Linked DNA regions of Homo sapiens: region 1 is linked to region 2. Evidence: fine-mapped expression QTL. A gene starts in region 2. The other region holds a variant in brackets. All regions are shown on one strand. Distances are between the middles of the regions.

Evidence for each region. PIP is the estimated chance that this variant, and not a neighbour inherited with it, causes the effect.
Region 1: its variant is fine-mapped to the expression of SYT13 in thyroid (GTEx, PIP 0.97).

Annotation. Positions count from the first base shown.
Region 1 is chr11:45,213,652-45,219,027 of GRCh38, forward strand. The region is part of intron 5 of PRDM11 (PR/SET domain 11); the gene reads left to right. Among named protein-coding and RNA genes, the nearest start is that of PRDM11, 70 kb to the left of the region's middle. RefSeq lists enhancers at 1-293, 5,355-5,376. The variant T/A (reference allele first, on the strand shown) is at 2,656.
Region 2 is chr11:45,283,611-45,288,986 of GRCh38, forward strand. It overlaps SYT13 (synaptotagmin 13), which reads right to left and starts at 2,731. Exons shown (of 6, transcript NM_020826.3): 1 at 2,415-2,731. The coding sequence starts at 2,597. RefSeq lists an enhancer at 2,126-2,912.

The DNA.
Region 1 (5,376 bases), 70 kb before region 2:
AGCACTTTATGCTTTTCCTCGCCCTTGCAGAGTCTGGGTGGTCTCAGTGGGGGCTCAGGACAGTCAGCTCAAGACAGCCAAGTCAGGTATTATTATGATCATTTTTATCATCATCATCTGTATAAGACAAATGACACAGCCAGTTAGTGAGAGGGCCAGGACTGGAAGCCAGGGTATCGGTTTTCCCAGCTCCCCTGTCAGAGGCCAGATCTGGAGTAGTGGGAAGAGGAGGCAGGGGGCAGGTCTTGCCCCTTGCCAGGCCTCTGCCCCTTGCCAGGCCTCTGCCCCCTGTATCTCTGCTTCTGCCTCAGCTGTCCTGGGTGAGGTGGGAGGCACCTAGCATTTAGCAGGTGATTCTCCCACCCTGCCCTGGCTCTATGGCTCATAGCCAGTGGCTTGGAGAGGCAGGGCCAGATCTCAGGAGTGGAGGGCAACCTCTTCCCTGGCTTCTAAAAGAATCCAGAGCCCAGTGGGGCTCATGTCCCATTCCAGGTTCCAGCATGCCTTGCCTCTGCTTGCTCGGGCTGCCTACGCACTAGCTACATACACCTCTAGCTTCATGTTTCATGTTGGAGTGTGGGGAGAAAACTGGGTTCTTAGCATTAGAGAGGGAAGTGGCAGGTGGCAGATACAAGCTTAGCTCTGACCTGGGTGCACCTCAGCTCTGTGTCCTTTTTTTTCCCTGACCTGAAGCTGACCCCAGCAGAAGTCCCCCAGCCAACCCCTCCACCCAACAACCCCCCACCCTCCCATCCTGCCCCCAGCCATAGTGGGAGCTGGGAGGATTGCAGCATCTAGTGCCTTCCAAGGCTGTTCCTGGAGCGCTGCTTGTAAACCCAAGCCAAGCTTTGTCCCACGTAGGGAGAATGGAAGGTGACTGCAATGTCCCTGTGCCTTTGGCTCCATCTCCCCATTCTGTGGTTCTTTGGGGGTTCCTGCTTCCCTCAAACTGAACACTCTCCTGTCCAACAGCCTGATGGCTTAATTATTGCCTGGAATTGCCCGGCCTCCGATGCTGGAATCAAAGATTGCCTTCCGAAGTATTTTTGTTAAGATGGCAATAAAAAGAAATCAATCTCACTCTTTGAACACACCCAGTGTCCAGGATCTTTCTTTGGTGTGTATTCTCTTTCTTCGTTTCCTGTGAAAACCTCGAGGACCCCAAAGCAGGGGTTAGATGTTTAAGGAAAAGCAGGTTGGTGAGAAGGGCTCAAGTGCCCCTTGATTTCCCTGATTCTATAAACTGCCAGATTCCCTGTATCCAGCACCATGCCAGGCCCTCGGAGGAAAGGAAGGGCATGCATGCACGAAACCACTCAGTTATATTTCATTTCTCTGCTCAAAAGTGAGGTGTTGCTAAGTCAATTTTACCTTTTGTTCCCTAAAAGTAAGCGAGAAGTTCTGGAAAAACAATCACCGTTTCGGACAGGAGGCTTTAGAAGGGTCAGGGGCTGTCCATGTGCCAGTGCACTTTAGGGGCCACCTGGAGGCATGACCCTCCCCACCAATCCAGGTGTCTGTGTGTCTGGCACTGGCAAGGCTCTGCCCACCTAGATCTGAGGCTTCTCAAAGTAACCAAAGCTGCCTCCTCTGCCAAGAGGAAGCCTCCTCACCTGTGCATTGCCCTGGCTTAATACCAGTCTCAGAGAGCTTCTCTCAGGCAGGAAATCCCCTAGTCTTGCCCACAGATCCCCTTTCTAGAAGGTTCTAACTTGCCATCCTCCACAGTTCTTGGCCAAAAAGCATGGCCATAGAAATGGAGGACTACCCAATTTCCGAGAGATGCAAAGATGTCGTGAAACCATTCCCAGGGCCTTCTCTCCCAAGGTCAATGTATGAAGCAGTGACTGGCTGGCTGCTCTCTCTCTTCCTGGGGAGGGAAGGAGCCAAATTGGAAGCTGTAAAACTGAAATGGAAGTCAGAGCAAAAGGGACAGTGAGGACTTGTCAACTTGGGATGGAAAAGATTTTCAGTTTCTGTTTCTTGGCTTCAGTGGGGATTGTTGGGCTAGCACATTAAAACAGGAAGAGGAAACTTGGGTGAGAGACAGAAATGAATTGGAAGAGGGAGGCCTCTAGCCATGACCAGGTGACCATCTGGTGGGTGGATGTGTGACCCAAAGCCCCTCCTAGCCCGGAGACCTATGCATGTGAGAACACAGAGCCCAGCCTCTTCTCAGTCGGTCTTTTCCTAGTTCTGCCTCCTTAACTGGGGCAGCTTCCTTTGTATTGAAGATACCCACTATGCAATAGTGTCTGAGCCTGGCCTAGTCAATTCCCTCCAGCAAAATGGATGCCCTGTGTTATGTTTTCTTTGCGTTAGAAACAATAGTCATGTGCTGACCCAGCTAGAAAATATGATGCACTTGATAAGACACAGTGGGTGAGGTCTGAGAATTGTTGTCTTAGTACTTACCTATCCAGTCCCCAAGGTCAGCTGGGAGGTTGGAATAAAAACAATCCAGGATCATCATGACAGGTTTAGTCCAGAGCTCTCCACCGCCATCAGCAGCACCACCACCTTCCCCTTGATTGCTCCAAAGGTCCCAAATTCTGTGGGTTGGAGTTGAAATGCCTCAATAAGCACTAGCATTTGCAGAACAGTCTCAGCCAGGCATTCTCTGTGCCTTCTCTCAAGAGGTAGTGACCTGGTAAC[T/A]CTTCAAACCTCCTTGCAAAGAGCTGCTCAGCCACAGTGGATAGATTTTGCCCCTCCTGGTAGCCTTCCACTCCTTGGGGAGGGCTTCTGATTTCTGCAGCCATGTAATGAATGGAACAGGCACAGTTCTTCATAAAGGGGTTGTTGTGAATGGGGACAGAAGGGTTCTGGGGGGTGGTCGAGCCAGCAGGTGTTAAGGCAAAACACTTAAAAGCAGGAGATCTAATCAGAGGTAACAGGTCTGGGGACCTAGCTGGCTTCATTTAGCTTTACCTCTTAAATGGTATAACATAAACATCTTGTCAGGGGAATGGGTTGTGATTCACCAAGAGTTGCCATATACATTGTATTTCAAATGCTAAGTTTCAGAACAACAAATACAACAAAATCTGAATAAGCATTGATCTGCCTTTGAAAATACTTTGTGATTTATACAACGCCTTGAGGTTAGCTTTCCAAATATTGATTCTTGATGGATAGAAAAAGACCAGAAGATGGAAAGTTAAATTGACTTGAGTCTTTCTAAACCTTTTGACACACCCTAGAAGTTGCTCTTTTGAATAAATAAATCCCAGATAGGAATGTATTTCTCATCTAGCTTTTTCTCTTGATGTCAAGTGTCAGAGAAATAATTCTAGCTTTTAGAGGTTGGTGGTTGTTTAGAAACTGGAAGAAAAAAAGGAGAAGACAGTATTCTCCAATCATAGTGCTATGATTCAAGTGAGTCTTGTGAGAAAAAAGACGAATGAATGGTTTCCCTTTTGTATCTGGGAGCAGGAAAGTTTGGAACAACTTCTATTCTGTGCTAACCGCAAGGTTGATTATTTTTGGATGTCAAATCCTAGACTCTCACTAAATTGGGGACTGGAAATATTTTGCATATTCAGAAGAAATCTCAGCTATGGAGAAAAGACTGACTCACAGTTGTAGAATTGAGATTGGGAATTATTAATTTGGAGTGACTTCTCTCACTCCAAATTAAAGGAAAAGGGGCTCTTTTCCTTTCTCTTAAGTCCTTTGTTAATAACATCCTGGCTGGGTGCGTGGAAATCACCCTGTGGTCTTCACTACTCAGGGATAGCGATGCTTATATCCGATGTGATAAGAACACCGATGTGTTGGGGCTAACAGAGAACACAGACCTAGGACAAGATGCAAATTCTGGCGGATCTAAGCACCGTAAATCTTGCAAGTTCTACACCTCCATGGTGGAGCCTGTGGCTTGCTTCTCTCAAAAGGTTGAAGCAGCCAAAGCCAGCATTTGCTCTCCCATCTGCCTTGGTCTTACTCCTTCTGAGGTCTTGCAGCATCCTGTTGCCAGAATGGATTGTTCCCTGGACTCCAGTGATCCTCCTTGGAAGGCAACAGCCTCCTCCCAGGCTCTCCAGATGAGCAAGGCAGGATATAGATGAGGGGCAGCTGGTGCCATCCCTGGGACCTCTAGAATGTAGATTCTCCATGCTGCTAGCTGCCACCACTGTCACCTCATACTGGAATTGGCATTCGTATATTTCTTTTCTTTATATGTGTGTCAGGAGTGAGGTGCGTGACAGTAATAGTTGCTTATTGAGGGAAACTTTGAAAGTATGCAAAATTACAAAGATGATCCACCTGTAAGGGGTTGTCACTGTTAAAACATTGGTATATTTCCTTCAAGTCGTTTACTGGGGCTTGTTTTTAAAGCATTATTGGAACCATAGTCTACTTCCAGTCCTATTGTTCTCACACTATCTTATTTCAACACCATTTTTCCATGTCATAAAAGATTCTTTGAAAACATTTTTCTATAGATGAATAGCATTCCATTATATAAATGTAACATCATTTACGAAATCTTATCTAGTATTAGACATTTAAATGTTTTGCCTTTGTACTGCTATACACAATGATACAAGTCAGCATATTGGTATGCCGGGTTTGCATACTTCATCCATAACTTATGTTTCTTGAGCCATATTGCCAAATTGTTTCCTAAAGGGTTGCACCTGTTAATTCTGCATCATCAGTACAGGAGACACCTTTCTTACCACCTTTACCAATAGAGATATTATCATCTTTTAGAAATCTGTGCCAATGAGACAATGTACTACGCTGTGTTTCTGTTATTAGTGATGCTGAATACTTTTCATTTGTTTATTATCCATCTGAATTCTTCTGTGAATTTTTGTTTCCCCTGGACTTTTCCAGATATAATTCATTGGGCTACACCAATCAGACAGACTTTGATTTTTGTCCCTTGTTTTTGAGACAAACCATAACATAAAGAAGTTTATTTTTTACTACAAATTTCCTAGGTGCTTGTGTAGCTCAGAACCCTAAAACGTCAACTAATTTCCTCTTGCCCTCTGATCTGTACACCTTCACTCCTCGGCAGGTGTTCCCTCATCCCACCTTTTGGAGGTGGGTAGGGTGGTGGGCTGGATGTCGCACATGTTGTTTCAGTGAGAATGGGCGAGGGCCATAGATTCTGAGGGTTTGACAGAACTTTAAAGGTTTTCTGGGCATTGCCGAGTTGGTGCTTTACATGCCCACATAGGAGCCATGAGTTACAGTGGGAAACGTGCATAGGACTCAAAGCTCCATCTCCCATTTATTAGCTGTGTGACTTTGGGCAAGTTGCTTGGCCTCTCTGAGCCTCAGTCTCCTTACCTTAAAATCATTTAGTAAGATTAACCAGTGGTTGTCAACCTTTTGTAGTCTGTTATTTACCTTCCTCCCCTG
Region 2 (5,376 bases):
CACATTCACACCCATAGATTCAGCCCCAAGTTGCCCACATCTTTGTCACTGAGGGAACCAGGTAAGGGAATGTGGATGGGCAGGTATCATGTATCAACAAATATTTATTGTGCCCCTATTGAGCTTGCACATGGTTACAAAGACATGGTGCATGCACCAGTATTTGAAGATGATAATCCCCATTGGATGACCCCTGAGATGACTTTATTCATCTACAATTTCTTATTGGACACCTACTACTTTCCAGGCACTGAGAGGGTGCTGGGAATAAATATTATACACCAGTAAGTGAATATGAAAGATTGCATCCTAATGTAAAGAGTGCCATAAAAGGATTTGTTAGAAACAATATGGGAGAGAATAACAGGAAGAGGGTGTTTTGTTTTATGTGTCAGTAGGCAAAATCCTCCCTGAGACTTTAAATGGAAAAAGACCTGAAGGATGAGAAGGAGCCATTTGTATGAAAGGCCAGAGAAAAATGAAGGGGCAGAAAAGGGCTTGGTGTTTTAAAAGAATGATCGTAAATCCAGGGAAGCCAAGACTGCTGATGAAGAAAGAAACTGGCATGAGCTTGGCTGGAGAGGCAGGCACCTTCCATGTTAAAGCAGGTGAGTGGGTGGAGAGGAGTGGCTAATAGTGTGGCCACCAGAATCAGACAAGCTCAGCTAGAGTCTGGCTCTAAAACTTCTCTAGCTGTGCAGCTCTAGGCAAGTCAGTTACCTTCTCTAAGCCTCAGTTTCCTCATCTTTAAGTTAGGATCATTCTATGGCTCCCTCACTGGGTCAAGAAACACATTAATTAGTGTACTCTGAACAGTGCGCCTGGCACACAGTGTATGCTATGTCATGGTTTGCTATGACCTCTTCCAAGCTCAGTGAGAAGTTGTGGAGGATTTGAAGCAGGGGAGAGACACAACCTGGTTTTTCTTTAACAGATGATCAGCCGTTCTGTGGGCTACTGGTCATCAATAAGACAAAGAGTTGGAAGAGACCCTAGAGGTCATTTACACCAACTAGTTTCCCAGTGGTTCTCTCTAGGAAGGGGAGGGGGCGGTGCCTGGAGAGACATCACTGAAAGGCAGAAGAGTGGCTGTTCCTCAAGTGTGTTGGGCAGGAAAGAAGGTTGAGAGGCGGCCGACCACGACTTGTGGAGAAGGACTCCCAACACCTGGCCAGTGGAAAGCCCACTATTCCCCTTTTCCAGATCGTCCCAAGTCCCACATTCTGCTGTGCAGCCGGCTCCTATTTAGCCACTGTCAATGTCACTGTTCTTGGATTATAAGTGCCTCAAGGACAGCAGCCATTTCCTTTCCACTCTCACTGTACAGTGACTGACACAGGCCCCACACAACTGGGTCCTCTGAGCTTTTGAATTATTGATTGGAAAAAGGAAGATGGAGTCACAGCATTTTAGTGCCACTCCTGGAACCATACAGTCTATAAGGGATCTAGAGGGCCTTTAGGAGGTCCTTTAAGTCATGCCCCTGCCCCAGGGCCATCCTTCCTCAAATCACTCTAGCAGGACTCTTTGCCTCCTGGTTCTCCAGAGAACATTCTGCATTCTGTACTTTGGAAATGCATCCTGGAGGTCACAGCCTATGCAGGGAAATCCTTCCAAACTGCTTCCCCAGACCCCTTCTGCTGCTCTTTACAATGGGAGCACGGGCTATTTCCTGCACGAAGGGGCTCTGGCCATGAGCAAATGCATGGGATAAAAGCCCTCCTGTCTCCAGGGACGTCTGCAGAGACATCTTGGGGGAGGCCATACCAACCCCCTCTGACTGGCTGGAGCTCAGAGCTGCTAGGGGGTGGGGAAGAGTCCTTCAGGTTCCTCCCGGATTCAGCTCTCTAGACCCCGCTAGCTAGCTTCCCAGCTCCTGCGGGACCGCGGCCACCTCCCCTCTGGCTTTGCAGGCATTACCTCTTCTCAGCTCTGGCAGGACTTGCCCTACCCTGGCTCCACAACCACCACCCATCTCCCTCTCACAGACCCCAGTCTTCTTCCCAATTCTGCAAACTCCTCATTCTCTGGTACCTCTCAGGGTCTTCCCTAACCCTGGCGATTCCCCTCCCAGCCTCCCTCTCCTCTTACCCTTCCCAGCCCTAATTCTTATCCAGGTCCCCTTTCCTGTCCCCTCCCTTTAGGTCTCGCTGCTGGCCCCCATTCTTCTCTCAGTCCCCACAAGCTCGCCGCTCCCTAATTCTCCTTCAGGTCTCGTCTCCCCCATCCCCTAGCCTCCCCCATCCCCCTACCTTTTTGACTCCTTGACCTGTCCTCCAACGCGTCTGCTGTCCCCTCCCCGCCAAGCTTTGTCGCGCAAAGATCCACGACCGCCTCCCACCCCAGTTCCCCCTCTGCAGCTGCCCGGCAACCCCGCCTTGCCCGGGAAGGGCCTGCGCGCCGCCCCCGCTCACCTGTTGTGCAGACCCGAGCAAGCTGGGCTTCGCCTTCTCCAGGTCGGGGTCCTGGTCCCGCGGCAGCAGCCCCTTCTTGGGGTGCATGTGCCGACACAGGCAGGTGACCCCGCACAACGCGAGGATGCTGGTGGCTGTGCCCAGCGTGGCGCCCAGCGCGATCACAGGCACCGACAGCACCATGGTGCCCGCTCCCGGCGAGGGGCTGGGTCCCGCAGCCGCTCACCTTCCCCGGGCCGGGCCCGCCTCCAGGCAGCTCCCGGGATCCGGGCGAGCCAGCAGCTCTCCCGCCGCCAGAGGGGCGGGGACGGAGGGAGGGAGGACGGCTGCGAGGACGTCAGAGGAGGCTGGACCCGCAGCCACGTCAACCGGCAACCCCCTCCCCGCCAACACGTGACCGGACCCCCACCCCAACAGGAGCCGGAGCCTTCCAGGTGGAAGGAGCCTTGGGGTTGTTTCAGGCCATTCTTAATGCTTTGTGTACAACAGGGGACAACTGGGCCCAAGAAGTGCTGGAGCTTGCGGAGGTCACACTGTGTTAGAGGACAAACCTGGGCTCCAACCAGATCTGCGACTCTAGGAGTCACTTTCCCAGACTACTAGCTCCTTGCTCACCCTTCTACCCCAGCAGCTGGCCAAGCTGGCTGTAAAATTGGGTCTTCCGGGAGCTTTTTCAAACACAAAGCTGGAGATTTCCCAGCTCCCCAACCTGGGAGATGGTTCTTACAGGGAAGAGGAACAGGCCACAGGTAGAGGGAACAGATGGGATGTTTGGGTTGAGGCTGTACCTGTGTCCTGCTGAAGATGGACAATACAGCTGCATCCCCTTAAGGGTTGCCCAAGAGTTCACCTTTATTACCTAATCAGCAGGTATTCGCACCTTTATATATAGTTGAGGAAGCCGAGGCTCAGAAGAGAGGTGCACAGGTAGAAAAATCATCACCCTGAACCCAAGCTTATGTTTGCAGATTCCAAGTCCACACTCAAACGGACTTGTCTTAGGAGGATAAAGAAGATAAAATGCAGCAGCTAGGAGTACACACTTGATTCAGAGAGGGTGAGCATAAAACTATGCTTAGAACAAGGGGAAATTAGAATTCCGGGCATGAGGACTGTCTTAGCTCAAGAAAACAGTGGCTTTTTAGTGTTCTTCATTATATGGAGTGTTGAATTTAATTCAGCAGATATTTGCTGTGGGTTGGCTGTGCTCTAGGTGTGCTGGGCATGTGTGAAAAGGGATGTAGGTGATTTCATCCACAACAGAGCTTTCACATTTCTATGAGCCAATGTCTCCTAAATCTATAGCCTCTCCAGCCAGACCTTTTCCTCTGAGCTGTAGCTGTGACCACCACCTGGGAACCCACCCGTCCTCCAGTTTTTCAGCTATCTACACTTGCATAAAAACCCACCGATGACTTACTGGCTTAGACCAGTTATTGTGTTACTTGTCATGATTTCATGGGTTGGCTGGGCTCAGTTGGGTGGTTTTCCTGCTCAACATGTTGTCTTCTGGGACTGCAGTCATCTAGGGGTTCAGCTGGACTGGGACATCAGCTCTCCAGACACCATTGCAGATGGTGCAATGGTGAACTCACGTGGTGAGCAGTAGGTGCTGGCTGCCACTGGGATCACAATGGGGCTGTCAGCTGGTGCATTTTGGTTGTCCTCTATGTCACCTCTCCATGGTGCTGGAGCTGCTCACAGCATGCTGGCTGGATTCTAAGAGGAATGAAGCAGAAGCTGCCAGTTGTCTTAAGGCCTGGGTTCAGAAATTCTAGAACACTATTTGATCAAAACAATAGTCTCCCTCTAGTTCTTTCCTTCAGTGACATCAAAAGGAGGTGTCCAAAATACAAAGCTGATCATGTCACTCACAGCTCTCAAAGGTTCTCCAAGAATAAACCCAAGAGACTCAACCTTTATCCAAATCCCTTTGTGATGTGGTCCCTGCTAAGCCTTCCAGACTCCTCTCTACACACTTCCCAATGTGCCCCTGAGCCTCAGCCACCCCATGGACTTGGGATTCCTTCAACAAGCTAACATCTTTAGAGTCTCCATGTTATCACCCATGGGTGCATATAGCAGGCACTCAGTAACCGTGGAATAATTCATATGATCATCTTATGCAGAATTTCCAGTGTTTTGAAGGAATCCCATTTGTGATATGAGCTCCATTTTAGTAAACTGACTTTTCCACAAGTATTTATTGTGTGCCTGCTGTATGCCAGGCACATTTTCCTACTGATCCCCATTTGCTGCAAACTGTAGAGCTGAAGCACTGCAGTCCCTGGTGACAGCCTTAGCAATCTCTCACATAAGAGCTGCCCTGGGAGGTTTTCTTGGCTCCGGGCCTGGCAATGCAAAATGTTTTGTGGAAATAGAGGTTTAATTAATGCTGTCAGCTCCAGGTCTCCCATGCTCAAACGGCTGCCCTGGGAGACCATCAATGCCACTACTCATAACAGGATCTGGGGTGGGGTTAAAGGGGAAGGATGAAGAACACTTAATATCAGAAAATGTCTGATGGGGAATCAGACACCTGTCACATGATCCATTGTTACTATGGTTACTGGGATGACAGCAGCTGCAGTGGCCTTCATTTATAACAGGAAGAGGGACCCCAGCCCAAGAAGAAGAGCTTGCCTTGTGCCTCTTTCACACACAGTGAACCTATGGCAGAGCTAGGAATAGACCCCAGGGGATCCAAAGCCCAGTTGAGTGATCAGGACTCTGGGCTACCTTTGCTACCCAACCAGTCACCCTCATATATCTCATCAAAGATACGATGTTTGCTTCTTGGCTACTGATATGCAGACAGTGGCCTTTAATGACAACCCACAGAAAAAAGGCATCACTAGGTTCCTTTGAAAAATGAGAGTATGCCTATTGGGAAAGGCAGTTAACTGAGTCAGCTGAGTGGATCAGTTAAGACAGTCTGAGGCTGGGACCCACAAATAATTGG